Regions from separate parts of the Homo sapiens genome. Here regions 2 and 3 are each linked to region 1. The links come from fine-mapping of genetic effects on gene expression. A gene starts in region 1. Each other region holds a variant in brackets. All regions are shown on one strand. Distances are from middle to middle.

Region 1 (11,240 bases):
CTCATTCTGTCACCCAGGCTGGAGCACAGTGGCGCCATCTCAGCTCACTGCAACCTCCGCTGCCTGGGTTCAAGAAATTCTCCTACCTCGGCTTTACAAGCAGGTGGAATTCAGGTGCCCACCACCACGTTCAGCTAAGTTTTGTATTTTTAGTAGAGACGGCATTTCACCATGTTAACGAGGCTGGTCTTGAACTCCTCACCTCAAGTGATCCGCCCGCCTCAGCCTCCCAAAGTGCTGGGATTACAAGCGTGAGCCACCAACCCCGGCCTCAATGCATGTTTAAACATATAGTCACCCCTCAGTAACCTCAAGAATTGATTCCAGGTTCCACACAGATACCAACATCCACATATACTCAAGTCCTTTATGTAAAATGGTGTAGTATCTGCATATATCCTCCCAAATAGTATAAATCATCTCTAGATTACTTATAATACTTAATACAATGTAAATGCTATATGAACAGTAATCCTTTATTATTTGTATTTTTTTGTATTATTTCTTTCTGAATATTTTCTATTCATGATTGGTTGAATCCATATCAATCTGAAACCCATTGATATGGAGAGCCAACTGTATATATATCCATGTAACCACCACCTAGATGAAGATATATACCTAAAGCGAGATTTGAAAGTTTTATTGAAAAAGAAAAAGAAAAAGAGATTAAGTACTACTGCTCCTCTAAACCAAGAGGCTTTTATCTACTTAAATTTTATTTTCATACCTCAAATTCATCTTGAGTACTTTGAACATTGCACCATCTGGCAACAGGTTCAGGAACCACTTCCCAATCTTCACACAATTGTTTAAGGATATTCACAAATGTTGACTTCCCTGCAGCTGTTGTGAGGAAAGATAAAATTGAGGAAGAAAAGTTGTCAGGAAAAAAAGATGTCAAGTAGTCATTAGCTTTTGCAAGATTTACAATAGCAAGCAACATAAAAAGCCCAAAACATTCAACTTTCTAAACTTTCTCTTCATATTTCTTTAGAAGAAAATGAAAAGGCTCCCTGCCCAATTTCATTAAGCACATTTGTTTTTTATTACGTTTAGTTTAACAATATATTATATTTAATAGTAGGGACAGTCTTGACCTAGAAGTAATACTCCTAATGGCCACCACACCCTTTATATCTGAAGTCACCAAATGTGGTTGTATTAGACATCTCTGGTTAGCATAATGTTCTCTCTCTTTCCCTGTGTGTGCGTGCACACACACACAGATGAACATATAAATAACTTCAATATACTTACAAGCAAAGCTTCCTCTTCCTTATAAATTAGATCCATGGGGAGTAGAAAGAACTTACCTTTGACTTGCAGAACTATATTTAAATCTAGGACATTAGACAGGGCAATAGAAAAGAAGAAAAACCTGGAAGAACTTTAAAGAATTACACACAGAGAAAAAACAGGAGCGAGGCAGTAAAGAAGGTGACACAGGTAGACAGTTTAGAAGAAAAACACAAAGTAAACTGTATCCAGAGGAGAGGAGAAAAACTTTTAACGATAAACTGGATAACAGTGAGATTTAATCATGGTAAAAACACTGGCCACCAAAATTTAGTATGGAGAGTGTAAGCTTAGGGACTGTACAGCATTTAGAAGAATGTTAAGTGGAAGTGAAAGCATATAGAAAGAACACCCCACATTCACTGAGCTAGATGGAAGAGGGAAAGGAGAACATGATGTTCAGAAATAGCACCCAAGGAACAAATAAAAAAATTAGGCATCCACCAGAGTCTGAAAGCACTTAAGGCTACAGCATTCAACTTTCTTCTGACACTGCTTACAAGCAGAAAAATTCATATGGTCATACTTAAAAAGTCTAAGAGTAATAACAGTTACATTTAGTTCAAGCAGAGTAATAACAGCTAGAGTTCCCAATCACACTAACACATCTAGTTCCTTAACTTATTGGGGCAAAGTGGGAGCTAGAAAATAAGCTAATTAATAAATTAATTTTCTATGAAGGCAAAGGAGAACAAGAACCAAAGACACTGATGTTAATACTTTAAAAAGTCATGGAAACTAACAGAATTCCTAATGCCAAGCAGGCATTATAATGCTGAAAGTCATTCTGAACAGACTATTAAGATGAGAAGCAGGTAAGTCCTCCATCAATCTAACATAAGGGAACATTTGAGTAACACAGAACATAAGAAGATGGGTTATATAAATATAAAACTAAAACGACCAAGTAAAGTTCAAATTCTAGGAAAAATAGAGGAATTGCAAAATAGTTTACGCACAGCTTAACAATTTGTGCATTTACAGCTTATTTGGATCTGGCAAATAAGGTGAAGGAGACATGAACAAAAGTGCAAGACCAATAATGAACAGTAACTAACAAAGTCTCAGTGTCAGGGAGACGAAAAATGGCAAGGAACATGCTCCATCTAAACACCAATTGTTGTCATACAGAAATGCAGGCCCGGTGTTAACAGATCTTCAGATTTTTCAAAAGAAGCCAAGAATCTAATTGTTTATGGGAAATCTCAAAACGTTTTCGAGTTAGCAACAAATTTAATTTTTTTTTCTTTAGACACAGGGTCTCACTCTGTAGCCCAGGCTGTAGGGCAGTGGCACAACCACAGCTCACGGCAGCCTCAAACTATAGGTCTCAAAGATCTCCACCTCAGCCTCCTGAGTAGCTAGGACTAAACGTGCATGCTAACACAACTGGCTTTTTTTTTTTTTTTGAGACTCTGTCACCCAGGCTGGGGTGCAGTGGTGCCATCTCAGCTCACTGCAACTTCTGCCTCCCACATTCAAGTGATCCTCCCACATCAGCATCAGCCGCCTGAGTAGTTGGAGCTACAGGCGTGATCCACTGTGCCTGGCCTAATTTTATTTTTATTTTTCTTAGAGACTAGTTCTCACTATGTTGCCATGCTAGTCTCAAACTCCTGGCCTCAAGCAATCCTCCTGCCTCAGCCTCCCAAAGCACTGGGATTACAAGCTTGAGCCACTGGCCAGTAAAATTTTTTTTCAACCTGTGCAGGCCAATATTGTGCAATTGCAGGCTATCAGTTCACAACTACTTTCAGTGTAGGTAAAGGCAAAATCAGTGAAGAATTTTAAGCAGGGGATAACACATGACATTTGCATACAAAAAGACCGTTGCAGAAGTAGTTAAGAGAAACTGGAGATGGGATGATATATTAGGAAATTATTTCAGCTGCTGAAAAGATTAAAGATGCTTTGAGGAAATATTTCTAAATATGATGCTACCTAACTGGATTGGAGAGAGGGAAAGGGGATGAATGTATTGTGGTATTGATCCGAGGGGTTATTCATTCAACTTTACTGTTTTGTTTCTGTGTTTTTAACAGAGTCTTGCTCTGTCACCCAGGCTAGAGTGCAGTAGTGTGATCATGGCTCACTGTGGCCTTGATCTTTGGGCTCAAGCAATCCTCCTGCCTCAGCCTCCTGAGTAGCTGGAGGCACACCAACACATGCAACTAATTTTTTAATTTTTTTGTGGAGATGAGTTCTCACTATGTTGCCCAGGCTGATCTGGAACTCCTGGACTCAAGTGATCCTCTTGCCTAAGCCTCCCCAAATCCTGGGATTACAAGTATGAGCCTCCATGCCCTGCCTCAAATTTACTTTTCAGATGGCTTTGTTCAGCCACTTTCTCCTGTCTTTATATATGGTCTTCTTTATTCAGTAAGCAGCTGTCAGAGATTCCATACTAGTAAACATGCACCCTCAAATAACTTACATTGCTAATTATATCATATGGTCTTTCTACTGGTGCTTTAATTCTGGAGCAATGAAATAAGAAGTCCTCTTTGAGAATGCAGTTTTTCTATTCATTTGAATGCTTAAAGCATCTGCTTGCCTGGCCTTTTTCAAGAAGGTACAGTGCTTTGAATGTGGTAAGAATTTTAAAAAATTTGCTGTATGCATGAATGACCAGCACCCAACCTGGAGCTAAAAAAATTTTTTTTTAAATCTATCAAAACAGGAAGTTTCAGGGGTAGGTTTCCTGTGGTTGGAGATACAGAAGAATCGGACGTTGGTGTGTATCTTGCAAAGTGACAGGCATGGCCTAGTCTGCCCCCCATCTGAGTTAACAGAAACGTTAGTGGTCTTTGAATCATAATCCAATGTTTACTTGGATGTGGAGTAAGGGGTGAGGAACTCCATGCTATTAAGATCATTAAAGACCTCTTTGCTTGTACTCGAATGTTTCGAGTTTCGTTAATAATATAGCTAAAACAATGCTTCGCTAATAATATAGCTAAAAAACTGTAAACAACCCTGAGGTCCACAACTAGAAAATGGATAAACGATGGTACATCCATGCAATGGAATACTACTCAGCAATAAAAAGAAACAAACTACAGACACAAGTAACATGAATGAATTTCAAAAGCATTATGCTAAATGAAAGACGCCAGACACAAAAGGCGATATAGCCTATGATTCCATTTATATGGCATTCTGGAAAAGGCAACACTTGCAGGGATAGAAATCAAATCAGTGGGTGCCAGGGAATAGGAAGGGTGGAGGGGGCTGAATACAAAGGAGCAGGTAGGAACTTTCTAAGGTGATGAAAATGTTCTGTATCTCGATCATGGTGATAGCAAAAGGCATAATGTTTGTCAAACCTCATAGAAGAGTACACCTAAAAAGGGTGAATTTAATGTAAGTTACACCTCAAGAAATCTAATACCCTTCCCCCGCTTCCCTTTGCGAGTTCCCAACAAAGAGGGAGCAGAGGTTCAAAGCGCGCCTCACAGAGACCGCAGGCCTGGCGCCCAGTCTGACCCCGGGGACCGCAGTCACCCCGTGGAGCGGGAGGTAAGGGAAGGATGCTCTGGGTGGGAAAGGAAGCCGAGGCCGCGTCCACACCGCCAGGCTGGAGGGAAAGCCCTCACCGAGTTGCTGCAGAGAGATGCGGCGAAGGGAAGCTTCAGCCACTGCCGCGACACCCCAGCCTTGCGTCCCACATTTCCGGAGGCTCCTTACCGATGTTCCCTTCGATGGAGATTTTCTTGATGCGGGTCCCCTCAGAGCTGGCTGAGAAAGACGGGCAGCTTCTCTTGGGCGGGGTGGCCATTCCTTAGTCTTGTGGCGGCCCAGAGCTCGTCCGGCAAAGAGGGCTGGGAGGCGGCCACGGGTGCGCGCACTGGAGCTCGCGGCGCCGCTAAGCCAGATCCTGACCTGCCGGGTCAGCTAGTGAGCTCACCGGCCCGCCGGCGGGTGTCGGGGTTTGACTTTGGCGCGCGGAGGCAGCTGAGGACACTGGCGGGCCTGCGGGGCGGCCCCGCCCTCCTCAAGCCGCGCTCCCTAGCTGCCCCTCGGCCCTCGCCCGCCTCCAGCGCGGGTTCCCGCGTGCGCGCTCCGCACGCCAGGTCACGTGAAGGCCGGGGCGGGGCCGCGCGTGTGGCGGAAGGCCTCTACCCCAAGCAGCCAGGCGCCCGGGCAGGGCGCGGGAAGAGGTTCCGGAGTCGGGTGGGGAGGAAGGGTGGACCCCAGAGGCCTGAGGGCGCTGGAGGGCAGAGGGCGTCACCTGCAGTGGGCCGTGCCAGGCTTTGGAAAACCCGCCTCTCTAGTGGGCCTGTTGGAGATGAACAGACGCGTCTGGACAGAACTGGATAGACTTAAAGCTTTGAACTCATCTGGGGAGAAGGCACTGTGTGGTAGGAAAATCAAATGGATTTACTCTGGCTTCTCAGCCTAGAGGAAGACTATCAGGCGAAGTGCCGTCCTTGGGAATCGCACTGCCCACTTAGAGAGCCAGGCTGTTTTCTTCTATGTGCTTTTCATTAATTAACGAAGTCTAGTGCCAGAAATACCGTCATTAGCCCATTTACCTGCCAGTGGGAAAACAGGCACTGAGAGGCTGCTTGTTCCAAGTGTCAAAGTCAGTAAGTGAAACTGGGATGGGAATTTAGGTAGTCAGATGCCACCCACAGGAGGCCTTTCCAGATCTCCCATACCGCTTTCCATTTGATTTGGATGCACGACCATGCTGTATAGAAGTTAGCACGTTGGGTAGGTAGGTTTCTGTTCAGCTGTTAACTCAGCCTGCCCGACACCTGGCACATAGGTAACAAAATGTACTGTATGTTGAATTTTTGAATGCCTACTCATGTGCCATGTACTCTGCTAGAATACTCATCTAGATGGGACAAATGCAGTGTAGGATTTGTCCCAGCTAGATGAGTGCATTTTTAGTCAGGGTAAAGACCTAATGAGGCAAGAGAATAGGGAATTAGGGTAACCAAGGGTTAAGGCATAAGCAAAAGAACAGCAGGTGCAGCAATTTCTAGGCAAGACTAGGCAGCATACAGGCCACACCTTCACTCCTGTGATTACAAGACAGAAGTTTCCACATCGCCTCTGATTGTCCTCGGCCATCTCCATTTCAGCCTCTGATTGGTCGCAGGCCAATCCTTCATAGGGTGCAACCAATTGGACGACTGTAAAGGGCACCTAGGGATTTACCAAATTCTTTTAGCCTAGTAACCCTTAAGAACACTGCAATTGGGACTCTTGAAGCACTTGGTTCGCTTCAATAAATTTGTGCTTTTGTTACTTCGTTCTTTTGTTGTTTTGTCTTTCGTTGCTTCTTTTGTTGCTTTGTTTCTACGTTTTGTTCAATTCTTTGTTCAACACGCCAAAAACCCAGACAACTCAGTCAAGACTTCCCATCCAGTAACACTAATAAACCGGATATTACCCAGTCTGGAAGTTATCTGGTCCAAATTGTCTACAGAAACCAAAGGCCTTGCTATTCTTTTTTACATTGCAACTATCATCAGACCTGAAATGCATCTAAATGTGTAGCCAGAAGGGGAAAACGGTGACTCCATCCTCAGAAATAAAGAGCAGAAATTAAAATGTGAATCCTCGGGGATCACATTTTCCAGGATTAAACAGCAAGAATCATTCTATGTAACTGCCCTATATTATTCTGTTATGCAATTATTTTGTATATATTACTTTTACTTATCCCTATAGTGATTAATAGCAAGATCCTAGGAATATAAGAGGCCTGAAGAGTTGTCATCAGGTATAGCAAGGAAGTTGGGAGAAAGGTGCTGCGGAAGCTAATAGGTATCACATTTCACAGCCAAGCTTGGGGGAAAACTCATGAAATGGTAAGAGTACTGGCAGCTACCGAGAGGAGGAAGGCAAGTCTCTTGAGACCTTCAACAGGAAAGCAGAGCTGGTCCTGGATGGATGTCATAAAGAGGCTTGGGGTTAAGGAGTAGAAATCTCCAAGTGTGGTTTCCACAAAAAAGACCCACACAAGAAGTATCTTACAATGATGAAGAGTTTAAGCACTGGAAAATGAAAGATTTCAAACACCAGTTCTACCAGTTTCTGGCTGCAAAAACTTGAATTCATCTGAGCTTAAGAGTATACTTTGAAAAATACAAATGTGGGAGGCCGAGGCAGGTGAATCGCTTGAGCCCAGGAGTTTGAGACTAGCCTGGGCAACATGGCAAAACTCTTGTCTCTACAAAAAATAGAAAAATTAGCCAGGCGCCTGTAGTCCCAACTATTTGGGAGGCTGAGGTGGGAGAATTACCGAAGCCAGGGAGTCAAGGCTGCAGTGAGCCAAGATCATGCCACTGTACTCCAGTGAGATCCTGTCTCAACTAACAACAACAAAGTAAATGGGGGAAGCAAAGAATCTAGCTTTTTTGGCATTAAGTCCAGCATAATTTCCCATTTTCCTACATGACCTGGGGGTAACACAAGGAGAGAACAGAGAAAAGCACTTTTCAAAACATCTTGATTTTTGGTCCACAATCTCTTATCTAAAACCCTGGCAGCCAGATGTTTCAGAATTTAAAACTTTTAGAAAAGATTTTTAGAAAAGAAATTCTAAACTTTGGAACTGGCTGGACGCAGTGGCTCTTGCCTATAATCCCAGCACTTTGGGAGGTACTCTGGAATGCTTGAGCTCAGGAATTCGAGACCAACCAGGGAAACATGGCGAAACTAATAGAAAAAATACAAAAATTAGCTGGTTGTGGTGGCACACACCTGTGGTCCCAGCTACTCAGGAGGCTGAGGTGGGAGGATGGTTTGGGCCTGCAAAGTTTTAGCTTTAGTAAGCTATGATCGCGCCACTGCATGCCAGCCTGAGTGACACAGCAGCAAGACCCCGTCTCAATAATAAAATTTGGAATCGAAACTTTAGAAACGATACAGTGCATATACTGTATATTAATTATTAAGTAAGCACCCCCACTCCCCCTGCAGAGGTGTTAAATCAAATGCACTAATATTTTGCAGTGAAACAAAGAGTGTTAACATGAAGTGGGATAAAGACTATTAACATCTGGTCAGAATAAGTTTGCACTGAATTCAAAAAAAATACCTTTGGGGCCAAGCACGGTGGCTCACGCCTGTAATCCCAACACTGTGGGAGGCCGAGATGGACAGATTACCTGAGTTCAGGAGTTCGAGACCAACCTGGCCAACATGGCGAAACCCTGTCTCTACTAAAGATACAAAAACTAGCCGGGCGTGGTGGTGTGTGCCTGTGGTCCCAGCTACTCGGGAGGCTGAAGCTGGAGAATCGCTTGCACCCGGGAGGCGGAAGTTGCATTAAGCCAAGATCATGCCACTGCACTCCAGCCTGGATGAGAGTGAGACCCCGTCTCAAAAAAACAAACAAAAAAATTTTGGTTTTCTGAGCTTTTCAGGTTTTGAAACTGCAGATAAGAGACAGGATACAGCGCACCCAGCCAGTCATGATCGTGCTGCCACCTAATCCTTTCTTACCAGAAATTTTACTACTCCTTCAATTTGGGAATTTTCTCCTGTGGGAATTCTAGTGTAACTAAAGAATGAGACAGCGTTCTGACTGACAACATACAGGTTTATTAGGAAAACTAAATCAACCCAGAAAATAATAAAAAGCAGAAAAAATAAGAGACCCTGAACATTAAGTAGTGGTTACACAGCCCATGAGTTTGTCTACACAAACTCAACTACTTCTGTAAAATGATATTTATCAACTTAATAAGCTTGGTTATAAATTTCCCCTTGTAATCTTCATTAGTGCCTAGAAAACGGGGTACAGAAGCCATCATAAATGCAAGAGTGGGAGTCAGTGTGCTTCCTGCAAATCTGAAATCTGAAAGCAAAATAACATACTAGAAGAGCATAGGAGCCATCAGATGTATACAGCTTAGCAAAGAAAGCTGTTTTACTACATGCTTGTGAAGTGGACTGAGGTCATCAAGAAAATGTGACACTGTATTCATCATGCTGTAACAGGAGCATGTACAATTTCTTAGTAAAACTTCTACTAAACATGGTTGTTTAAACCTTAGAGGAATAATTAATTAGAATCTTTGTGTTGCAAAATGCTCATTGCAGATGTTATATAAGGGATTAACAACTTATAATACATTTAGTACAACAGAGGTAAATGAACCTAATTATCAAAATGTAGGTAATTTTACAATATATATTTCTTTACACACAATAAATGAATAACAGAGTGTTTTTATTTTTTTATTTTTTGAGACGGAGTCTTGCTCTGTCGCCCAGGCTGGAGTGCAGTGGCACAGTCCGCCTCTCGGATTCAAGCAATTCTCCTGCCTCAGCCTCCCGAGTAACTGGGACAACAGGCAAGCGCCACCGTGCCCGGCTAATTTTTTAATGTATTTTTTAGTAGAGATGGGGTTTCCCCACATTGGCCAGGCAGGTCTCAACTCCTGAGCTCGTGATCCGCCCACCTCGGCCTCCCTAAGTGCTGGGATTACAGGCGTGAGCCACCGCGCCCGGCCCACAGGGCGTTTTTAAAGCATGCAGACACAGTCCACAACAGCATTGGCTAGCATTTCAACTAGTCTTTCTCCCAAATACCATTAGTGACTTTGAGCAACTGTGGCTACTACCATTAAATATTCTTAACCTGAAGATTCAAACACAAATGCCTCTAACATAAATACTTCTGATACTCTGAGAAGACTTCTAAAATACACGTTTTGGCCAGGCGCGATGGCTCACGCCTATAATCCCAGCACTTTGGGAAGCCAAAGCTCATGGGTCACCTTAGGTCAGGAGTTTTGAGACCAGCCTGGCCAACATGGTGAAACCCTGTCTCTACTAAAAATACAAAAAATTAGCCGGACATAGTGGCATATGCCTGTAATCCCAGCTACTTGGGAGGCTGAGGCAGGAGAATCACTTGAACCCAGGAGGTGGAAGTTGCAGTGAGCTGAGGTCGTGCCATTGCACTCCAGCCTGGGCAACAGAGCAAGACTCCGTCTCATAAATAAAATAAAATAAAATACACATTTCCTTTTGGAACTTGGTAAATGATTCTCCAATATTATTAATATTCCTTAATGATCTGTAATGAAGACAAAATATTAAATAATAGCTTGGTGAAGAGGTCAACAAATGATTATTACTGTGCTAACTGTTCTCACTGTAATAGTATATATTATAGAAAACATACACCTGCATACTGCAGAATAAAGAAAAAAGTGAAAAAAGTAAAACAGAAACACTGGTTTCAAGTTCAGACACAGTAGGGTTTTAAAACCGTAATCCAAATCAGTGACTTGTACAATTTCTGAGCTTTAGTTTTCTAAGATGTTAAGACACTGGTTGTTGTGAACATTACAGAAAATAGTGCCTAACAAATTTTAAATGTTCAACATATTCCATATGCCATCAATATTTCCCTTGGAATGTGTTTAGTGTGGGAATGCCTATAGCAAAAATAAACAGTAATGCAAAGTCAGGATTCATGGCCAAACGTAACTATTTATTCATTTTTTTCTTATAAACATTGAGTTTCTTCTTTAAAAAAAAAAAAACACCTAGAATTTAAATATTTCCCATCCCATCACATACAAGTCTGTATACATTATTTACATCTTTTGAATAAAACATATTACAGATTTTCTGACATCAGTATCCCTTTTTAAACAAAAATGAAGCAATTAAACTTTGATCAGTAACAACTACAATTTGCATAATCCGGCACAGTTTGTAATATAGCGCCTATGTTGGATTTCATAACTTAGATGATTTTTCCCCTTCTAGTTACTTGATTATAAGAGAGAAACTGTCTCCATGAGAGTAGTTCCCTGTCTTTATGCACTCTTCTCAATACTTGCACAGTGTAAATGCCGCCCTTATTCTTCCATTACTTGGCACTGACAATATTCCTCTGCTTTTGTCTTCAGAAATGATTTCTATTTGAACTTTAAGTGTTCTCATATATACTGTATTCTCCT
Region 2 (11,240 bases), 320 kb after region 1:
AGTTTCTTCTTCATATTTTGAGGGTTTTTTTTTTTAAATTCAGCTTTTGCCTCTGTTTTTTTTTTTGAAATGGAGTCTCACTCTGTCGCCCAGGCTGGAGTGCAGTGGCATGATCTTGGCTCACTGCAACCTCTGTATCCCAGGTTCAAGCAATTCTCCTGCCTCAGCTCCCGAGTATCTGGGATTACAGGCATGCGCCATCATTCCCAGCTAATTTTTGTATTTTTAGTAGAGATGGGGTTTCACCATGTTGGCCAGGCTGGTCTTTAACTCCTGACCCCAAATGATCTGCTTGCCTTGGCCTCCCAAAGTGTTGGGATTACAGGCGTGAGCCACTGCACCCAACTGACCAGCTTTTGCCTCCTGATATCTAAATATAAATTTTACATACACTGTGCTTGGATAGAGATCAATATTTGAAGAAACTCTGCATATAAGAACGAAAATGTTTAGGGTTAAAAAATGGCAGTTAGTATTATCAGACATTTAATGAGGTTGGAAGTCACAAAGATTAGGAAGGAGGGTATCAAAGGGTATCAAAGTTGAGTAAAAATGCTCTGTTTGACTTTTAATCATTCAATGCTTATATAATATCAGAAAAAATCATTCAGTGTATATCTCTGCAAAAATAGCTAAATATATATATATTTTTTTGAGACAGAGTCTTGCTTTGTTGCCAAGGCTGGAGTGCAGCGGTGTGATCTTGGGTCACTGCAGCCTCCTCCTGGGTTCAAGTGATTCTCCTGCCTCAGCCTCCCAAGTAGCTGGGACTACAGATGTACTTCACCACACCCAGCTAATTTTTGTATTTTTAGTAGAGCTGGGGTTTTACTACGTTGGCTGGGCTGGTCTCAAACTTCTGACCTCAGGTGATTCATCAACCTCAGCCTCCTGAAGTTCTGGGATTACAGGCATGAGCCACCGTGTTCAGCCAGCTAAAGCATTTTTGTTAGACAAAATCATTTTTGATTATTTCACTTATTTAAATTACAGATTTCTAAGTTTTGTATCATTTCACAAGGTATACATAATCAAAACATCACATTGTGAAATGATTCAGTCTAATCTTTCAATTCCCCCACCCCCAAAAAATGCCAATTAGAAGAAATTTCTCCATATAGATGTGAAAAAATAGTATTAATGGCTCTTGGTATTGTGAGAGGTAAAATGGACTGTAAGTTAAGAGGCTTAGGCTCTCTACCTTTAGCTTTAGAATGACTAAGATTGATTCTGAAGTTCAAAATAGATTCTAAGCTTGTACAATTGAAATGGGGGAAAAGGCCAGGAATGGTGGCTCACGCCTGTAATCCCAGCACTTTGGGAGGCCAAGGTGGGTAGATCACTTGAGGTCAGGAGTTTGAGATGAGCCTGGCCAACATGGTGAAACCCCACCTCTACTGAAAAAGACGAAAATTAGCCAGGTGTGGTGGTTTATGCCTGTAGTTCCAGCTCCTGAGGAGGCTGAGGCAGGATAATCGCTTGAACCCAGGAAGCGGAGGTTGCGGTAAGCCGAGATCATGTCACTGCACTCCATCCTGGGTGACAGAGAGAGACTCCATCTAAAAAAAAAAAAAATGGGGGAAAAAAGTTAATCCTATAAAGTGCATGGTGTTGTTATCTACTATGATTCTCCCCCTCACTCTGCTGCAGCTACAAGTGCCTTCCTTCCTGCTCCTCATCCTGTGTGGGCCAAGCTCTTTCTTATTTTGTGCTTTTTACTTGTTGTTTCCTTTCTTGGAATAGTGTTTGCCTGACTCTAGGTTAGGCAGAATAATGTCCCTCCCAAACATTGCAAATATAGTTGCAATTGCTTCTGTACTCCTTAATATTATTAAACATATTTTAAAACTTTTATTGATAATTATTCCAGATAAGTCATGTGTGCTCTTGTGGATTTGGACACAGAGTGCCCTATAGGAGTTTTAGGAAGTTCAGAGCAACCCAGCAAGGATCTTGGTAGGAGGACCGATTGTCAGATCAAGGGCTATACCTCAGTTTTGTCATAGTAAAACAACCAGGCTGGGCGCGGTGGCTCTCATCTGTAATCCCAGCACTTTGGGAGGCTGAGGCCGGTGGATCACTTGAGGTCAGGAGTTCAAGATCAGCCTGGCCAACATGGTAAAACCCCGTCTCTACTAAAAATACAAAAATTAGCCAGGCGTGGCGGTGCATGTCTGTAGTCCCAGCTACTCGGGGGGCTGAGGCACAAGAATTGCCTGAACCTGGGAGACGGAGGTTGCAGTGAGCCAAGGTTGCGCCACTGCACTCCAGTCTGGGCAGCAGAATGAGACTCCATCTCAAAAAAAAAAAAAACAAAAAACACACAACACAAAAAACATCTTCCTCTTTATCCTTTGTTAGTAATTTTATGCTTGACTGATTTGTGAAATTCTGGGATATTTGGGGACTTTTAGTTTTGTAGTATTAAGTTAATAGCAGTTATATATTCATGATAAGTATATATACACACACATATAATGAATTTTCCACTTTGTTGGAGTGGAGATGGTTTTTGATGGAGTGGAGATGGTTTTTGCTGTTAGCTTCTCTTGGCAGCAGATCTTTCGTTCAGTGCTAATAGAATCTTCCTTCAGTTTATTTCTCTGGATTGATTCAAAAGTTACTTTTGTATTGTCTAGTGTCTCAAACGTATAGAAGTTAGAGAGATGGTATACACGGAGAAGAGTTAAAGGCTGTGCTTTCAATGGCCATTTGACATATTTTAGAATCTATGTTTTAGGGAAATAAATATCTTACTTTCCTCTCTGTATTCCTTGCAAGTGTGTCATTTAATTCTGGGTTTCTGGGATTGTTATATATACCTGGTTGTAAAAGTAGTCATGGAGTTCCTCTGTAATAGACTTTGTAAATTTGTCAGATATAAAATGCTTATCTCGAGTATACATTTTACAGTATTCTTTTAAAATTATTTCTTTTTATGTCCTCTGAAATAAATAGATTCTGGAATATATTCATGAGAGTGCTAAGGAAATGAAAGACGATACTTTTTAGGGAGATCCAGGACTGATGATGCTCTTTCAATTCACTTACCACTTATAATAATACTGAAGATTCTGTCAGATATATTTAGGGTATCACACACACAAAAAGGATTTCTTTTTTCTAGCACATTTGGGAACACTGATAAGTTATTTCTAAATCTAAAAGATTTTTGGGTTACTTGGAATTTACAGGTTGACATTTAATTCAAGGTTTCTTGTAGACTTCATATTTTCCCTCCTAATTTTTAGAGCTGATTAAGCAGTACTATTTATTAGTAAAATTTGTTTTCCATATAAAGTTCAAGGACAAATGGGAAATGTGAATTATTACACTAAATGTAGAAATTAATCCATTAAAAGGAAAATCAAGAGATTTCAGCTGCATTTTGGATTTAAGGCCAAGAAGCCTGTTAAAAAATATCATCGTCCCTTTTAAGAGTTCAAGTGGCAAAATGCCAGGCTGCTATCAAGACTCCTTTTATATTAGGGAAGGCTTTCAAGGGGAGAAATGAGATGACATTAAAATAGAGAATAAAGGAGAGATTGGCCTTTTATGATAAGTATTCATGTTACCTTATGGATAAAACCCAGACTTTGAGTCTGTGTGATAGTATGGATTATGAGTTAACTTGAGATGAACTACTGCACCCAAAATGTGCTTATTAATGGACTGATATTGATAGAGATAGGACTTTAGATGTATGCTGCAAAAGTCTATCTTAAGCACTATCCCATTAAACATTTTTCTTAATGACTTCAGTAAGGATCCGATGGCATGTGTCAAGTTTGCAGATACTGTAAAGCTGAGAGAAAGAACTAATGTGCAAGGTTTCTGAATCTGGATTTAAAAAGAATCTGAGACATTGTAATGTTGGTCTGAGTTTAGCAAGATAAAACTTAGGGACCAATGCTAAATCTCATGCCCAAATCCTAACTTGTTTAAATTTTAAATATGGGAAAGTCATTACTTTATAGAAACATATTTTTAAAAATGAGATTGTACACTTTAATTGAAGCCAATAGTGTAACATAGCTGCCAAAAAAGAGATATTATCATCTTAAGTGGGATTTATTGAAAAATGTTAAGTTCAGCTGTTGTTTGTACTGTCCAGATTACACTTGACTATTGAATATGTATCTAGATACTACTCTTTAAATAGGACATTGACAATATGGAGCCTATCCACAAAAGAGACTAATATTGTTAGAAGACATAAACTTAGAGGCAGTTTTCAACTCCTTGTAAAAACGTTCTCCATTCATCCTTCATTCAATCAATATACTTGAGGCAATCCTGCGCTTGTTCTTGGAAACAGAAGTAAGCAACAAGACAATGCCGCTCTTAAGGAGCTTTTATTTTAATGAGGAGGAGACAGTTACGACTAAGTAAACTAAAGAATTTCAAACAATAATAAAAACTATGAAGAAAATAAAACAGGGCAATATGATAATGATTGGTAATTGGTTAGGAAGATTATCAGCCAGAAAATTTCTCTCTGAGGCAATGACATTGGAATTGAGACTTGGTGGTAAGGGGCCAGCCATGCAAGGCTATGGAAAGTGTTGCAGGCAGAGGGACTAAGACAATACGAAAGCCTTGAGCAGAGTAGCTGGAGAGAGATGAGTGGAAGGGGGAGTTGCAGGAAATCAGGAAGGCTAATGACTCTGAATTTATTCTAAGTGTAATGAGAAGCCACTGGAGGGTTTTAAATCAGATATGATCTGATTTACCTTTGAAAAGATCACTTTTCATGGTAAGTGGACAATGAATTGTGGCAGGTAAGACTAGAGAAGAGTTTGGAACAGTGAACAGTTTAATGAGTTATAACATGAAACCATATTTTCGTCCAATTATTGCCTCTCAATTACTATAATTGAATTTTTCTTTGCCTTTTTGACAATGTTTTAAGAAGATTCCGTAATTTAAAAATATTTTTTCATTATTAAAAAATCTAGTTTATTTGCTGTGATTGTAAAAGTGCCATAAATAGTAAAGCTCATTTTTTAAAAGTCTAGTTCAGTCTAAAAGCTTGTATCTCAAACTCACTCTTAATTTCAAGTCTCCAATGCTAAACAAGATGGAATAACGGTGCAGATTTTCCCTGCCATTTGAACCAACTAGAAAAAACTGACAAAATTTAAGAAACACTGGTTTTCTTTTTATTATTATTATTATTATTATACTTTAAGTTCCAGGGTACATGTGCACAACATGCAGGTTTGTTACATATGTATACATGTGCCATGTTGGTGTGCTGCACCCATTAACTCATCATTTACATTAGGTATATCTCCTAATGCTATCCCTCCCCACTCCCCCCACCCCATGACAGGCCCTGGTGTGTGATATTCCCCATCCTGTGTCCAAGTGTTCTCATTGTTCAATTCCCACCTGTGAGTGAGAACATGCGGAAGAAACACTGGTTTTCAAGACATTAGGCAATGCAGGACAGTGATTTCGGAGAGACTGGAAACAAATAAGGAGACCATTGCCCCATGTTGCCTTGGAGAGAGTTCCCAGGCCATGGCTTCACTGGAGGAATTCTGCCAAACATTTAAGGAAAAATAATACTAATTCTACACAGACTCCTCCAGAAAATTGGAGAGGGGGAAATACTTCTAAACTC[A/T]TCTTTTCAGGACAGCATTATTGTAGTAACAAAACCATGCAAAGACATTACAAGAAAAGAACATTTTAAATCAATTATCCCTCATGAATATAAAAGCAGAAATTCTAAGCAAAATTTTGGTAAATAAAATTCAAAATTTATGAAAAGGATGTTATATCATAACTAAGTGGGGTTTATTCTAGGAATGTAAGGTTAGTTTAACATTTAAAAATAAATGTAATTCACCATATTAAACAAAAAAAGGAAAACCATATGGTTATCTCAATAGACAGAGAAAAAATATTTGACAAATATTCAATGTTCACTTCTGATAAAAACTCACAGCAAACCAGGAAGAGAAGGGAACTTCCTCAACTTGGTAAAGGGCACCCAAGAAAAACCTAACATCATACTTAAAAAACTGAATTCTGAAGATGTGAACTTTTTAATAGCTTTACTGAGATGTAACTGACATACAGTGCACTGCACACATTTGAACTGTACAATTTGATCAATTTTGACATGTGTGTACACCTGTGAATTCATTATCACCACTAAGATAATGAACATATTCATCATCTCCAAAAGCTTCCTTATGTCCTTTTATAGACTTATAGTCCCGCCTTCCCTTCTCTCTGTCCCCACCTTCCCAGATAATCACTGATCTGCTGTCACTATGCATTTGTTTGAATTTTCTAGAAAAAAATATAAATATATCCAAATATAGAATCATACACTATGTACTTCTTCTTTTTTTTTTTTTTTTTTTTTTTTTGAGACAGAGTCTTGTTCTGTCGCCCAGGCTGGAGTGCAATGGCGCGACCTCGCTCACTGCAAACTCTGCCTCCCGGGTTCAAGCGATTCTCCTGCCTCCGCCTCCTATGTAGCTGGGATTACAGGCACCCACCACCACACCCGGCTAATTTTTGTATTTTTAGTAGAGACAAGGTTTCACCATGTTGGTCAAGCTGGTCTTGAACTCCTGACCTTGCGTTCTGCCCAGTTTGGCCTCCCAAAGTGCTGGGATTACAGGAGTGAGCCACTGTGCCCAGCCTGTACTTTCTTAAAAAAATTTTTATCTGGCTTCTTTCCCTCAGAATAATTATTTTGAGATTCATCCATATTGTGTCTATTAATAGCTTATTCATTTTTATTATTGAGTAATGGATATACCACAATTTGTTTATCCAATTTGTTTTTGGACATTTAGACTGCTTCCAGCTTTAGGCTATTACAAATAAAGCTAACATATCTTCCAAGTGAACTTCCTCCTCACCCATCCTAAGTTGGAAACTTTGGACATTTTCATTTATACTTTATATAGCATGATCATGTATCATTTTTGATATTCCTGCACATCCACAACCCAAGGGGCCATGTCAGGTTCTCCCAGGAATGCTTTCCCCAAACTTCATTGCAGTTGGTAGCTGCATTTTCTGCAACTCCACAAGGAGTTAAGACATAATGATGACGACGATGATAATAATAAGTAACTAGTACTTACATAACACTTATTGTGTGCCAAGATCTAACTTCTTCACATGATGTAATAGATGTAATAAATATTAACCTGACAACAATCCTGTGAAGCATATATTGTTATTTCCCCCTTTTACAGATAGAGGAAATTAAGAGAGATTAAGTGATTTGTTCAAGGTTTGTCCAGTGTTACCTAGCTAGAGAGTGGTGGAATTGGGGGATAAACCCAATCAGTCAGGTTCAGAGCCCTTTCTCTTAACTATTATGCTATATTGCTTCTCAATCTCCCCTGCTTTTAGGGTCCCTGATCTCTTGGGTGATTTTCTTGAAACTCTCCCTCACTTGAATCTGGGGAGAGGAAGGTGCCCCACCTTTACTCTCTACTCTCCCAAGGGTGAAGCGAGGTGGGATATGTGTGTGGGAGTCTCTTATTACAAACACTATGATTTCAACAAGGTAACAGCTGCTCTTATAACATCCCCCCTCTTCCCTCCCTAGTCTTCTAAAGATGAGATGGGAGTGTATGGGAGCGGTGGAGTGGTGGTTGATGGAAGTAGATTGAGTTTTGTTGCCTCTTTTTAGAAAAAAATTGTATGTGTACATAATAGTTATACATTGAAAACTACTGTTATCTTCCTTAGCCTTGCCTTCAATTCCTGGCCTCAAGCGATCCTCCTGCCTTAGCCTCCTGAGTAGCTGGGACTACAGGCATGCACCACTGTGTCTGGCTTCGTTGCCTCTTAACAAACCTTGGAGGAAATATTTGGCTTGCTTTAGATTTGTGGTACTTAGTCATTCTTGTTTATGATCTGTGTGCCTTAGTCACCAATGCTGAGGGAAAGGAAAAGTTACTTTTTAATTATAGAAGCTATTATGGTAGTCCAGGAAAGAGGATGGAGGCTTGGACTAGGTTGGTAGTGAAAACGGAGAGAATCAGATGAATTTGGGATATGTTTTGGAGAGAAAGCCGACAGGTCATGCTGGTAAATTGGATGTAGGGGAGAGGAAAAGAAAGGAAGCAAAGAAGAGGATTTTGGCTTGAGTAACTGATGGAGGTGTCATTTACTGAGATGGGGGAAAACTTGAGACAGAAAGAGATTGGTATGTGAGTGTGAGGATGGATTGGTCATCAAGAATACCGTTTTACCTGGTTAAGTTTAGATACCCATTTAGATAGCTACATGGAGATATAAAATAAAAAGTTGGACATAGGCATTCAGAACTCAATGGGCAAGGTAAAAGTTAAAGTTATACATTTGAGAGTCCTCAGTGTGCCCTATGTTTAAAGGCATGGAATAAGGTAAAATTAATTAAGGAGAGGCTAAGAGAATAGAAAAGATGAGGATTAAGCCTTGATGTCCTCAATATTCAGAGGAAAATTTGGCAAGAGACCCAGAAGGAGTCACCAGTGAGACAGGAGGAAAACAGGGAGTTACATTCTCTGTGTCCCATGAGAATAAAATCTTGTCACAATTTGAATATCCCAAAATATAATGAGTTGTGTCCACAGGGAGTGGAGCATCCAACTATTTCGGATGATTTTCAACTAAATGCTGAATTCGGTTATATAGAATATTGAAAAAAAATTGAGAGTCATGAAGGTGAGACTAAATTACCTTTAAGATCTCTTTCATCTAGCTGAGTCTATCACTGAATCTCTTACTACACAAATCTTAAATGTGAGTATAGAAAAATAAGCCTCTTTTTTTGCTGAGAATTTAGAACACATGGCTAAGTTCTCAATCACTTAACACACATGTAAAGGGTTCTACTATTCACATTTGACATTTTTTTAGTGGCAAAAACATAACTAAAACTGGCAAAGAAGTGGTTTAAAAATTAAACTGGAACTTGTATTTGTATATAGTAGGTTAATGATAAAAAGAATATGCAACAGCTTACCTATAGTGAATTATAAGCAAATACAAACTTCAGCTAACTTTTCAGTATGGCTATTTATTTAAAAATTACCTTTATTAATCTTTTGTTCTTCCATAAATAGTTATTGCTGCTAGTTATTCTGCACTCCCTTACTTCCTGCCCTAGGCCAGTCTTTTTTTCCATTAGTTTTCAAACTTCAGTGCACATCAGAATCAACTGGGATGCTTTTTGAAAATACATATTCCAAGGTCACATCTCCAGAAATTCTGAGTGTTACCAAGAAATCCATATTTTAACCAGTACTACAAGTGGTTCTAGTCAGATGATCCCTAGAGCACACAAGGCAAAACACTAGTCCAGATCCTATGTTGCCAGCATAGGTAATTCTCTTCTAATGACAAATGTGTCACACTTTATTTTTATTAACGCAATTTATTTTAGATTTATAGTTTACATAATCGAAATATAAAAATGCAAGATTGGCCAGGCGCAGTGGCTCACGCCTGTAATCCCAGTACTTTGGGAGGCCGAGGCAGGCAGATTACCTGAGGTTAGGAGTTCCAGACCAGCGTGAACAACATGGAGAAACCCCGTCTCTACTAAAGATACAATACTAGCTGGGCATGGTGGCACATGCCTATAATCCCAGCTATTCAGGAGGCTGAGACAGGAGAATTGCTTGAACCTGGGAGGTGGAGGTTGCAGTGAGCCGAGATGGCACCATTGCACTCCAGCCTGGGCAACAAGAGCAAAACTCCATCTCAAAAAAAAAAAAAAAAGCAAGATTGGAAGAATGAAAATATCAAATATAGAGCTTTTCTTTAGGTTAGTAATTATGAGTTAAATAATCTTTGCTGTTATAAAAAAGGAAACTTTTGGAGAAGTTTTAATTTGTTCCCAAGGATTTACTCAACTTGCTTTGGGAAGGCAGTCTAGCCTTGAGTTTATTTTTCAAGAATTAAAAAGGTATCCAGCTGACTATTAATTACTATTTTTTTTTGAGTGATTGAATAAGTCAGTTATTTAGAAACTTCAGTTGGGGGTGAGGATCTTTTAGAGTGGTTGATAGTTGTTTTGACCTCCTGACCACAAACTAAAATAATGTGCTTTCAGGTCTGTTTCTTTTTTTAATAAACTGTCCATGTGATGCCAGTATATTTTCCCTAAACTCAAGTAGTTGCTAAGTCCTACTGATAGTAGAAATTAAAATAGGAATAAACTTGGACAGTATAGTAATATTGCGTATGACAGTGCCTGACACTTTGTTCTTACAGACTTTCAATACATACTCTGAAGAAGTGCAATCATGTGCTAGCCTTTAATGTCTCTTTCATCCTGTCATTTCGTATTTCTAGCTTTGAAGTCTGCTTGCCTTACTTATGATTCTGAAGTACTCCTAATTACCTCTTAAAATTCTAGGAGTCCCTTCAAAAATTAGAGCTGAGAACCAGAAGTAACACGGATTTGATGCTGTTGTGTAACCAGCATATTCTTGGAACCAACCTTGCCTAAGAGACAGGAAATTCCAGCATGTTGGAGTGGGAGTGCAGGGGGTGCTCTGTCCAAAAGCTCAGTTAAAAAAAATGACATTAATTAAGTGAAAAAAATTTTACACAAAATACTGCAGTGATTCAGTTTGCTTTTGAGGCATCTCAAAAATCATCTTATGGGTTTGCAATTCTGAAAGGTGTAACTAGACAGAAGGTCCGTCTTAATGCTATCAAATTAAAATATGGCAACTTATTTATCTGGTATATACCCGCTTCTTTTTTTTTTTTTTTTTTTTTCGAGATAGAGTCTCCCTCTGTCACCCAGGCTAGAGTGCAGTGGTGCCATCTCGGCTTACTGCAGCCTCTTGCATCCAAGATTCAAGCGATTCTCCTGCCCCAGCCTCCCGCATAGCTGGGATTACAGGCCCTCACCATGTCCAGCTCATTTTTGTATTTTTAGTAGAGACGGGGTTTCACCATGTTGGCCAGGCTGGTCTTGAATTCCTGACCCCAAGTGATCCACCTGCCTCGGCCTCCCAGAGTGCAGGGTTTACAGGTGTGAGGCACTGCGCCCAGCCAAGTATCTACCAGCTTCTAATTCCAATTCCATGTTTGAGCTTATAAAATAACTGAAAGTAATCAAAATATATTTTGTAAGATATATACAAAATACAGATTTTGTGAGATATATACAAAATACAGATTTTGTGAGATATATACAAAATACAGATTTTGTGAGATATATACAAAATACAGATTTTGTGAGATATATACAAAATACA
Region 3 (11,240 bases), 36 kb before region 1:
AGTAAGGTCAAGTTGTCTGGACAGAAAGGCTACAGGGCGCAGTCCCAGCTCTTGTGTAAGAACTCTGACCGCACAGCCCTGCACTTCAGCTGTGTGTAATGAAAAGGGTTAGGATGAGTTAGGGAGAGCTACTGTGGGAGCAGCTTCTAGGGCTGTTTTTAAGGAACGGAAAGGAGTGGCGAAAGGATTTAGGATCTATGGGGTCAGCTAGGTTTATCTAGAATAGAATAATGGGTTGTGGAGGGAGGTACTGAGGATAGGAGAGTATATGGGTTTGGCACCACAGGGTGGATAGGCAAGACCATTGGTTGATAAAGCACAGATCCTGAACTAACCTGTAAGACTTGTCCGGTTTTTGGACAGGTAAAATGGGGGAATTGTAAGGAGAGTTTATAGGCTTTAAAAGGCCATGCTGAAACAGGTGAGTGATAACAGGGTTTAATCCTTTTAAAGTGTGCTGTGGGACGGGATATTGGCATTGAGCGGGGTAAGGGTGATTAGGTTTTAATGGGATGGTAAGGGGTGCATCATCTGTCACCAAGGAGGGAGTAGAGGTGTCCTATACTTGTGGATTAAGGTGGGGAGATACAAAGGGAGGATGCGAAGGAGGCTTTGAACTGGGGGAAAAGGTGGCAATGAGGTGTGGCTGTAGCCCAGGAATAGTCAGGGAAGCAGATAATTTAGTTAAAATGTCTCGATCTAATAAGGGAGCTGGGCAGGTGGGGATAACTAAAAAGGAGTGCATAAAAGAATGTTGTCCAAGTTGGCATCAGAGTTGGGGAGTTTTAAGAGGCTTAGAAGCCTGGACGTCAATACCCACAACAGTTATGGAAGCAAGGGAACCAGGCCCTTGAAAAGAAGGTAATGTGGAGTGGGTAGCCTCCGTATTGATTAAGATGGGGACAGACTTACCCTCCACTGTAAGAGTTACCCAAAGCATCTGCGATGGTCCAGGAGGCTTCCGAGGCGATCGGGCAGCATCAGTCTTCAGCCACTAAGCCGAGGACAGCTGGGAAGGAGTCGGCCAAGGAACATTGGGTTTGGGCTCCAGGGGCTTTAGGAGCGGCAGCGATGTGAGTCGGATAGTCTGACCTCCAGTGGGGGCCCACACAGGCAGGACATGGCTTAGGAGGAATCTTGGGCACCGGGCATTCTGAGGCCCAGGGGCCAGGCTTTTGGCATTTGAAGCAAGGTCCACAAGGATGTTTTGAAGGAGCCCCTGGGAGCTGTGGCTTGGATGTTCTGAAGTTCTTGTATGCTGGAGACATGGTTGTGGGTTGTCTTACAGCAGAGGCAAGTAGCTGTAACTCAGAAACACGTTGCTGTCTGGCTACCTCCTCTCTATTATTGTACACCTTGAAGGTGAGGTTGATTAATTCCTGTTGTGGCGTTTGAGGGCCGGATTCCAATTTTTGAAGTTTTCTAATGTCAAGAGCTGACTGGGTGATAAAATGCATATTGAGAATAAGACGGCCTTCCTCTGGGGTCTAGGACAGTAAAGCATCTAAGGGTTGTTGCCAAACGGGCCATGAACTGCACTGGGTTTTTATATTTGATGAAAAAGAGCCTAAATGCTAACTGATTTGGGAGAGGTCGGATAAAGAAAAAAGGAGCATTAACTTTGACTATGCCTTTAACTCCAGCCACCTCTTCAAGAGGAAATTGTTGGGCAGGTGGGGAAGGGCTAGTCGCGGAAGGAAACTGTAAGCCAGACCGGGTGTGAGGAGGGGAAGTGATAGAAAGATTATAGGGTGGGGGAGCAGAGGCTGAGGAAGAATTGGGACCTGGCACAGCCTGGCAAGGAGCAGCCTGGGTAGAAGGGGAGAGGTCAGATGAGTCCGCAGAAAAGGATTCAAAGGACTCAGAGCTTGGTGTGGAGACTGAAGGAACAGACAGGAGAGAAAGAAGAAGGATTTGGGATGAGTCGCATTAACTTTGACTATGCCTTTAACTCCAGCCACCTCTTCAAGAGGAAATTGTTGGGCAGGTGGGGAAGGGCTAGTCGCGGAAGGAAACTGTAAGCCAGACCGGGTGTGAGGAGGGGAGGTGATAGAAAGATTATAGGGTGGGGGAGCAGAGGCTGAGGAAGAATTGGGACCTGGCACAGCCTGGCAAGGAGCAGCCTGGGTAGAAGGGGAGAGGTCAGATGAGTCCGTAGAAAAGGATTCAAAGGACTCAGAGCTTGGTGTGGAGACTGAAGGAACAGACAGGAGAGAAAGAAGAAGGATTTGGGATGAGTCGCATTGGGAGCAGAGACTAGGGAGGGACAAATGTGTAAAAGAATGCCTAGACATCAGGCACCTCAGACCATTTGCCCATTTTTCAACAAAAATTATCTAGATCTTGTAGGATAGACAAATTGAAAGTGCCATTCTCCGGCCACCTGGAACTACTGTTGAGTTTGTATTGGAGCCAAGTGGTACTGCAGAAGAAAATAAGGCATTTAAGTTTTAGGTCAGGTGTGAGTTGAAGAGGTTTTAAGTTCTTGAGAACACAGGCTAAGGGAGAAGGGGGAATGGAGGGCGGAAGGTTGCCCATAGTGAAGGAGGTAAGTTTAAAGAGAAAGGTAGAGACACGGGGAAGGGGGTGGGCGAGCAGCCCGGGGCTGCAATGTGGGTGAGCAACCAAAGCAGACGTCCCCGCAATTGACTTGCCACCAAGGGAATGTGGGTGAATCACCAAGGCAGGCTCCCTGCAGTGATCAGACACCAATGAAATGTGGGTGAATAATCAGTCAGGCGTCCCCACAGTGATTAAACACCAAGGGAAGACTGTCTTCCTGAGTCCATGACCGGCGCCGGAGTTTTGGGTCCATGGATAAAATGTGTCTCCTTTGTCTCTACTAGAGAGGAAAAAGAACTGGAATTGGAAGGACAGGGAGATTGACGAGACAGGCTGGAGAAGAGAGTGAAAAGACCGCTTACCGGATTTGAAATTGGTGAGATGTTCCTTGGGCTGGTTGGTCTGAGGACCCAAGGTGGTAGGTGCATCTCTTCACAGAGTGAGGGTGAGAACAGGGGACTGGTCTCCCGAAGGAGTCCCTCTGACTCGGGTCTTTGGCACCAAATGTCTCTCGCGTCCGTGTGAAGAAACCACCAAACAGGCTTTGTGTGAGCAACAAGGCTATTTCATCTGGGTGCAGGCGGGCTGAGTCCGAAAAAAGAGCCAGCCAAAGATGCTTTAAAGTTTATGAATTAAAGTAAGACATAAAACTGGTAAAATCCAAATTAGGTCTGTAGTTTAGTTAATAGTAGTACACCAAATTTAATTGTTTTGATAAAATATTATTGTTAAATAAAGTTATCATTGGGAAATAACTGAGTGACAGGTAAACAGGAACTCTGTAATATTCTTGCAACTTTTATGAGTCTAAAGCTATTTCAAAAAAAGCTTTTAGCGCAGGGCACAATGGCTCGTGCCTGTAATCCCAGCGCTTTGGGAGGCCAAGGCAGGATGATCACTTGAGCCCAGGAGTTTGAGACCAGACTGGACAACAATACCCCATCTATACAAAAAATAATTTTAAAAAATTAGCCATCATGGTGGTGAAAGCCCTGTAGTCCCAGCTACTTAAGTGGCTGAGGCAGTATTGCTTGAGCCCAGGAGTTTAAGACTACAGTAAACTATAACTGCGCCACTGTACTCCGGCCTAGGCAACAGAACAAGACCCTCTCTCAAAACAAAAAAAAAAAAAAAATTAAAAGAAGAGGTAAGTTAGTCAAATGAAGAAGGCTATTATTTACCAGACTTAATGTTGCAATGTATCTAGCATTTTTCAAAGGCAATAACATCTATATCTCTATTTTAGAAACATTTTACAACTCTGTTCTTTAACATATGACAGACTTAAGTTCTAGGTGGCTCGGTATAAGTTTCAAGTTTTAGGCATAGCAGAAGAGAAAATTCTGGATGAGAAAAATAAGTCTTGTATTATTAATTACCTTTCTAGGAGAGCAAACTATAAAGAGCAATAAATAAATTCTAATGGAAGACATGATATAGGTAATAGATCCAAGAGATAATCCAGACCACCATTAGGCTCAATTCTATTATGACCACCACACTGAGACAACTTTTGAGTCATGACAAATAAATAATAAATTTTTATTAGCGTCTTTTCAATTCTACAAATTTTAAAAGTCATTATACATTTTTAAAGGTTACTAAAAATCACTGAAATATGTCTCCACTTAAAATGGAATCAAAGTAATTTATACAATTTTCACCTTTAATATTCATAATTTATTTAAAAGTAGAATAAATTTTAATTCTAAAATGATTATTACATCTTTTTAGAACTGAAATTACATTTCAATGAGTGTAGCTCCACTGTAGTTCATAAGGTTTATACTTAAGAAATATTTAATTAACAAATTAATTTATACCAAACAAAAACAAACTAAAAAAATGCATACGTATAATGAGACAGTTTATGTATGGTAATTACAGATTTGAAATTAAGTCTCCTTTGCAAAGATCAGTGC[G/A]TCTGGACTGGTTAATCCACTAAATTATCATCTTTGAATAAGAAACCAAAAACAAAAATGACTTGGAAAGAAAAATAGTAGTTTAAAAGTGAAAATGACTCTTCCCCTTATTTTAAAATACATAAAATTTTCTAAAACGTAAAATGGAAAGGTTTAATACACAGGAAAAACACTGCACACCTTAACTAAACAAACTAGAAAGAAAATATATTTATATACAGAACTAAGATGAGTCCATTCATTATTTTTACAAATATTCACATAGATGGTTTAGAGATAAGTAGTTAAGTGTGTCTCATTAATTAATGGATGCTTTCTAGCCTCTGTCTTCATTAATTTTATTTCCTATTCAACAAAAAATAATGCTTTCAGGATATATTACATATAGAGCAATATCATTTTTATCAGTAATTTGTCTGAAAAAGAGAAAAACTTAAAAGCAGAACCCTACAAAGCAAAGCAAACTACAAAGCAAAGAGTAATCACAGTGTTTGCAAAATAGAAATGTGTGACTTTAACTTTATAGCAGGCTGCCTAATTAATCCAGACAGTAGAGAAAGCAGACTGAGGCAGGAAGTAAGAGGTGGGACTAAACTGTTAAGAAGATAATAATTTAAAATAAAACTTCAGAATCCTTATTCTAGGGATTCCTTTAATTCCACTTTGCAACTTTTAATAGGTACACTAATTTACACAGGACACACTACCATTTACTATGTAACATTAAAGCTTTCAGTTTAAGAAACTGGTCACCAACGAAGTGAGAGGCACCAGGGAAAAAAGCCAACCTGCTGAGGAAGACAAAAGAGGGGAATGACAGAAGGAAGCTGGATCTTTTATAATGTAGTTTAGTCACTATGCTGATACTGGAACCATCTACCTCTACATTTCCTGCTATGAGAAATAATGTCTTTGTCTTTAAATGTCTTTTTTAAAAAAAAAACAAAAGAAAAGAAACTGGTCAAAAAGTTTTGCATAAGATTCATTTTAAAAATCTTTTTTCCTTAAAACAAAAACGATTAAAAACTTGGGTTTTCTAAAGAAACTTATATTAATATGAAGTTACGAAGATACACAAAGCTGAAGTATCTGGAACCATTTGGCTGCCTGTAGTCTTCAGCAAGATCACAAAGTACTCAAAAACTCTTTGACCTGAGGAAAGGAAGAAAAAAAAATCAGTATAATTCCTTGACTAATTTGAGGTATCTAATATTCATCTTCATTTAAAAGTATATAATAGTTGAAGACCCCAGCTGTATAAGTAACTACCACAATGCCATTGCATTTACTTTCCAAAGAAATATTGTTAAGGCCGGGCGCAGCGGCTCATGCCTGTAATTCTAGCATTTTGGGAGGCCGAGATGGGTGGATCACTTAAGGTCAGGAGTTTCAGACCAGCCTGGCCAACATGGTGAAACCCCCCATCTCTACTAAAAACACAAAAATAGGCCAGGCGCAGTGGCTCATGCCTATAATCCCAGCACTTTGGGAGGCCGAGGCGGGCAGATCACCTGCGGTCAGGAGTTCGAGACCTGCCTGACCAACATGGAGAAACCCCTTCTCTACTAAAAATACAAAATTAGCCGGGCATAGTGGCACATGCCTGTAATCCCAGCTACTAGGGAGGCCAAGGCAGAAGAATCGCTTGAACCTGGGAGGCAGAGGTTGTGGTGAGCTGAGATCGCGCCATCGCACTCCAGCCTGGGCAACAAGAGCAAAACTCCGTCTCAAAAAAAAAAAAAAATTAGCTAGGCATGGAGGCGTGCACTTGTAATCCCACCTACTTAGGAGGCTGAGGCAGAACTGGTTGAACCTGGGAGGTGGAGATGGCAGTGAGCCAAGATTGTGCCATTGCACTCCAGCCTGGGCGACGGAGCAAGACTGTCTCGAGAAAAAAAAGAAATATTGTTAAATACTTCAGTAGTAAAAGATGAATGACCTAAAAGGTCATTTTAGGAGTTATTTATTGCTCTGTCACCCAGGCTGAGTACAGTGGTGCAATCAAAGCTCACTGCAGCCTTGAACTCCTGGCTAGGTGCACACCATCATGTCTGGCTAGTTTTTGTTTGTTTTTTATAGAGATGAGGTCTCACTATGTTGCCCAAGCTGGTCAGGAACTCCTGGGCTCAAGCAGTCTTCCCACCTCAGCCTCCCAAAGTGCTGGGATTACAGGTGTGAGCCACTGCATCTATCAATCTAAGATAGATATAGTTCTAAAATAGCTGTAACACCAATTTTATAATCTCTTCATTTAAATATCATAGACCACTGACATATGCAGCTTTAACACTGATAACATTAATAAGCACAATAGTTCAAGCAACTTTGAAAATCAAACATGTAGTAGATTTGTCATGTTTCTGAAGCACATATGTGAATCACATACTTTGCAATGTCAGTGTGTGCAGAAAATCATGTAAGGAGTCAATGAACCTAGCCTACTGACCATAATGTAAGAATATGCTTGTTCTCTACATATTCTAGGCTACTCAATAATTCTCAAGAAACAAAAATTATTGCCTTGTAAAAATACCTTAATAAGAAAGTCAACTGCTAGCATTATTAATAAAAGTAAATATAATAATGTGAAATGATTCTTAGTCAAAACAAAGAAGTGTTAGATAAAATTAAAAAGTGATTTACAAAGTCAGTTAAATTGATGGTTGGCTGTTAATACTTAATGCTGACTTTTCATTTAATAGTATTGTAAGTGAATTTATCCTATATTTTTAACATCATTAGTAGTATGAAGAGGTCATTGGAATTTTCCAGATAAGCTTTAGTTCATACCATGGGAAAAACAACTACATGTATACGCTACAGTAGTTACATAAAATGTCAAGATTTTCAAAATCCTTGATATATCCCTTATGAATGTCAAGTCTCTATTAAACAGCAGACATTATGCCACAAAAGAAAGGAAAAATCAAATTTTTCTCAAAACTAAACCAAATTGTGCTTTCTTCTTTATAGCTTAATCACTCAGTTATCAACATGGGTATAGGGATATTTGTTATACCAATTCCCTTACTATTCTCTCTCAAATATTCATCAATAAATTCTCACCCATTCCCTTTATCAATATGGGCACCACTCACTTAACAGAATATAGTCAACTCCCAGTGATTTGGGCAATAAATGAACTGTGATTAAGACAATGACTCAATGATTAAGTAATGTCAATTAATCCTTGACATGATCCCAAATGAAACTCAAAACTAAAATCCCTTAATCTCAAGACTTTGGCCAACATAAAAATAGATGAGATCCATATCCTGTAACTTTAAATATCCTCCATATTGAATTTAGTTGAAAAAGATAAATTTAATTTCACAAGCAGTTTATTATTAAAGTATCTAAAGATTGGTGGTGTAGGGAAGAGAGGAAGAAATGGGGACAAAGCAGAGAAAAAGGGGGTGAGAAAGAATTTTTGTTATTATAATTTTACCTATCCTACAGATAGAGGCACTAAAGGATAAAAAAAAATCCTTATTTTATTTTTATTTATTTAATTTTTTTCTAAGATCTGTCAGATTCTGAGATTCCGAAGGATCTTTATTTTAGCTCAGGCCACAAAGCTAGAATTTAGTCAGGACTGGAATCTTAAACAGTCCAAAATCTTCTAAAGCTCTTAACTGTTTCTTAATGTAACTTTATGGAAGCTTTTCTGTTAGAAAATTGTTTTCTCACCACTCAGTACACTTTTTTAGAAAAAACAAATATTTGTTTGTAGTCTGTCTAAATCTACCTTTTCAACCAGACTTTCATATTTGTCTTTAAAGTCTTCATTAACATCCAGTGTTAAGATAGGCACCTCTTGAAGATAATCGAAGTTGGTTCTGTTTAAAAAGAGAGATTAATAAAATAATCAGAAATTCAACAAAAAAAAGAGAGAAACATTAAAAATTCATTCGTATGTCCTTGGAAAATCAAAATGTTGTCAATCATTTACACTAAAGTTACTTTGCAGTACTTCATCTGGCAGCCCCTTCTTTCTCATCTAGATTTACCATATGGAGCCCAAAAACTTAGGTACAAAATATATACAGCTGGGTACTGTAACATATGATTCTCTTCAAAAACAAATAGCAGTCAATAAAGTAGGAATTTCTGCATTTTTAAAGATGAGAAAACTAAAGCTCAGAATTGTCATTCTGAAGCTCAGAGGCTATCCAAGGTCACACACCAGTAAGACTGGACTTGAGCCAAGATCTGACTAATAACAAAGTCTATCCTCTCAACAACCACGCTATACAATCTCCCAAGTCAAAATTCTTTCTGAAAGAGTACCTAAATAATGTTCAGATATATTCCTACTTTATCACTTAAAGTGAAATTTCACATATTACGCTATCAATACCACCAAGGGATACTAGTTATAAAAACTTTAAGTAAATAGGATCTCATTGCAATCAAGAGAATGAAAATCTATACCTAGTTCTGGAAGATACCAATAAGCAAAACGACTGGAAATTTTACATATTGCTAGTCATATCTTCCAAATTTTAGATTAAAATTTAACAAAGGTAACAAAGGTATTTAAAATGAATAGTAAATAAAAATAAGTCTTACTTCAGTGTCCTATGCAGGAGCCAGCTTTCATGTTTATAATGAAGCTTCTCTAAATATTCAAGAGGAATGCCTTGCTCTTCATTTCTTCCCCGTAAATATATTCTATGTAAGCATGTCTAAAAGCAAGTAATAAGAGATGGAAGAAAAAGGCAGGGAACAATTATTCTTGTCTGCTGCCATCAAAATTTTCTTTTCTGTGTCTCTCTACTCACGCTAGCCAAAATCTCTACTTATTACTTCTTAAAAGCTGAAATAATTCATTTTTCCCTCCATGAGCTTTTCAGCCACTTGGTGGCTCTAAGCCAAGCAGTACTTTCAAAAATAAGCCTATAAATTTTTGGTATCCATCCACACATGAAATATACTAAGTTTGATAAAAAGGAGAAAAAAATTAAACATCTACTTAAAATGTTCAGAGACAACAGCTAAAAGGTATGCCAATCTATAAACATAATCTTACTTTGCTGTTAACCAACCTTGATTACAAAATATCTATGTTCAGTTCACATAAAACCACTAAAGACAGTGGTTCTTAATGTGATGAAAACTCTATATCAGCACAACCAAAACAACTTTGGAATGTTTTATGCCTGTCCTATATCTGCATTATCAAATAAGGTAGCCACCAGCCACCTGTGGTTTTTAAGCACTTGAAATATGGCTAGTGTGGTGACCAAGGAACTAAATATCTAAATTTTATTTAATTTTAATAACCCTAAATTTAAATAGCCACATTGGACAGTGCAGCTCTAGATAACGGTCCCCCAAAAGCACACATACATAAAAAATTTCGTATAATTTGTGGGGGCTCATATACCATGAGAAACTCTTCATGCATTCCAAGAAATAAAAGCCTCCAACCTAAATGACATGCATAAGACCATGGCAGCATACAAACTGTGTTTCAAACTCTACTCTAAATTCTCTTTTCAATAATTAAACAATCCTTTCATCCAAAGATATCAGAAACAATACTGATGAAATTATCAGTATCAAAATGAAATTATTAGTATTATTTATGTTTTTGGTGTTTGTACTATTTTCATAACTTTAAGAAACCTTTTCAAAAATAAAAGTGAATTTCAAAATTATTATATTTGCTAAATTCTAGCTTAATAGTGACTATAAATGTTTCAAGCAAAATGAAATTATTCATATTCCTTATGTTCTTTTTCACATTTTTATTTACTATTTTTGTAATTAAAAACAAAAAAATTCAAAAATAAAAGTGAATTTCAAAATTCACTTTTGAAATTGCTAAAAAATTGCTAAATCCTTGCTTAATGAAGAACAAAATCTTTACTTAATGAAGAACAAAATCATCCGTTGGAATAGGAAACCTAATTTCTTTGAAAACCCAGCTTCGACAGCAACACAGTATTCTAATTTTAGGCCAGAAGTCATAACATTTACATTCATCAGTGCCTACCCTGTGACTTAAGGAAAAAATGAGAATTAAAAAACAGAAACAATAGAAATGCACGCACCAAAACCAGAAAGCTTCTGATTAAATGTAAGATCTTAATATTTAGGTTAGTTTTATGAAAGGCATCTATTTGGTCATCCTGTATTCATTATATAACATCATATGTAACTAGAATAGCTATGTTACAACCTATCACAAAAAGCACCTTTTCAAGTGAGCTCCCTTAATGGAAAATGGCAAGGGTCCTCTAAGTCTTTTCCCAACGATAGCTGCCATTATCCACTCATTCCAAGGCACAAACAACCATAATAAAATATTTCTTGATATGGACCTCCATCAACATTGCCATTCATTCAGTAAATATTTACTGAGCTCCTACTATATGCTCCAACAGTGCCCAGCACTGGGTGTTCTAGGCAATGGAAATTCAATAGTAATCAAAATGCCCAAGGTCCCACCTCATGAAGCCTATATTCTAGGAGTTGCTTGACCACATTCATTACTTTAACTGTGATGAATGAGAAGAGTCTGCAAATGTTAGAAAGAAATAATGAGTAAAATAAAAAAGAATTGAGGAAGCACAAAGAGCCTAAAACAGCAACTTGCCCAGTCTGGGATTCCAGTTTGCTGAGAAAAAAGAATGCTTCTATCTACACAGTTACAAGTTTCTAATTTAGAGGTGGGGAGTGGGAGGTTGGGAGGCTGGAGTTAAACTAAATTGCCCTCATTATATACCACTGAAAAGAGTTCTAAATATT

What was found. PIP is the estimated chance that this variant, and not a neighbour inherited with it, causes the effect.
Region 2: its variant is fine-mapped to the expression of DCK in T cells (TOPMed, PIP 0.97). The same link has a PIP of 0.9 or more in visceral fat.
Region 3: its variant is fine-mapped to the expression of DCK in whole blood (TOPMed, PIP above 0.99).

Annotation. Positions count from the first base shown.
Region 1 is chr4:70,987,673-70,998,912 of GRCh38, reverse strand. DCK (deoxycytidine kinase) reads right to left here and starts at 5,264. Exons shown (of 7, transcript NM_000788.3): 1 at 4,987-5,264; 2 at 731-846. The coding sequence starts at 5,077. It overlaps MOB1B (MOB kinase activator 1B), which reads right to left. Exons shown (of 6, transcript NM_173468.4): 6 at 10,745-11,240. RefSeq lists an enhancer at 4,839-5,018 and a silencer at 5,189-5,528.
Region 2 is chr4:70,667,147-70,678,386 of GRCh38, reverse strand. No RefSeq gene overlaps it. Among named protein-coding and RNA genes, the nearest start is that of JCHAIN, 6.3 kb to the right of the region's middle. The variant A/T (reference allele first, on the strand shown) is at 5,630.
Region 3 is chr4:71,023,748-71,034,987 of GRCh38, reverse strand. DCK (deoxycytidine kinase) reads right to left here. Exons shown (of 7, transcript NM_000788.3): 5 at 9,057-9,172; 6 at 8,233-8,323; 7 at 4,074-5,636. The coding sequence ends at 5,610. Among named protein-coding and RNA genes, the nearest start is that of DCK, 36 kb to the right of the region's middle. RefSeq lists an enhancer at 5,710-6,210. The variant G/A (reference allele first, on the strand shown) is at 4,485.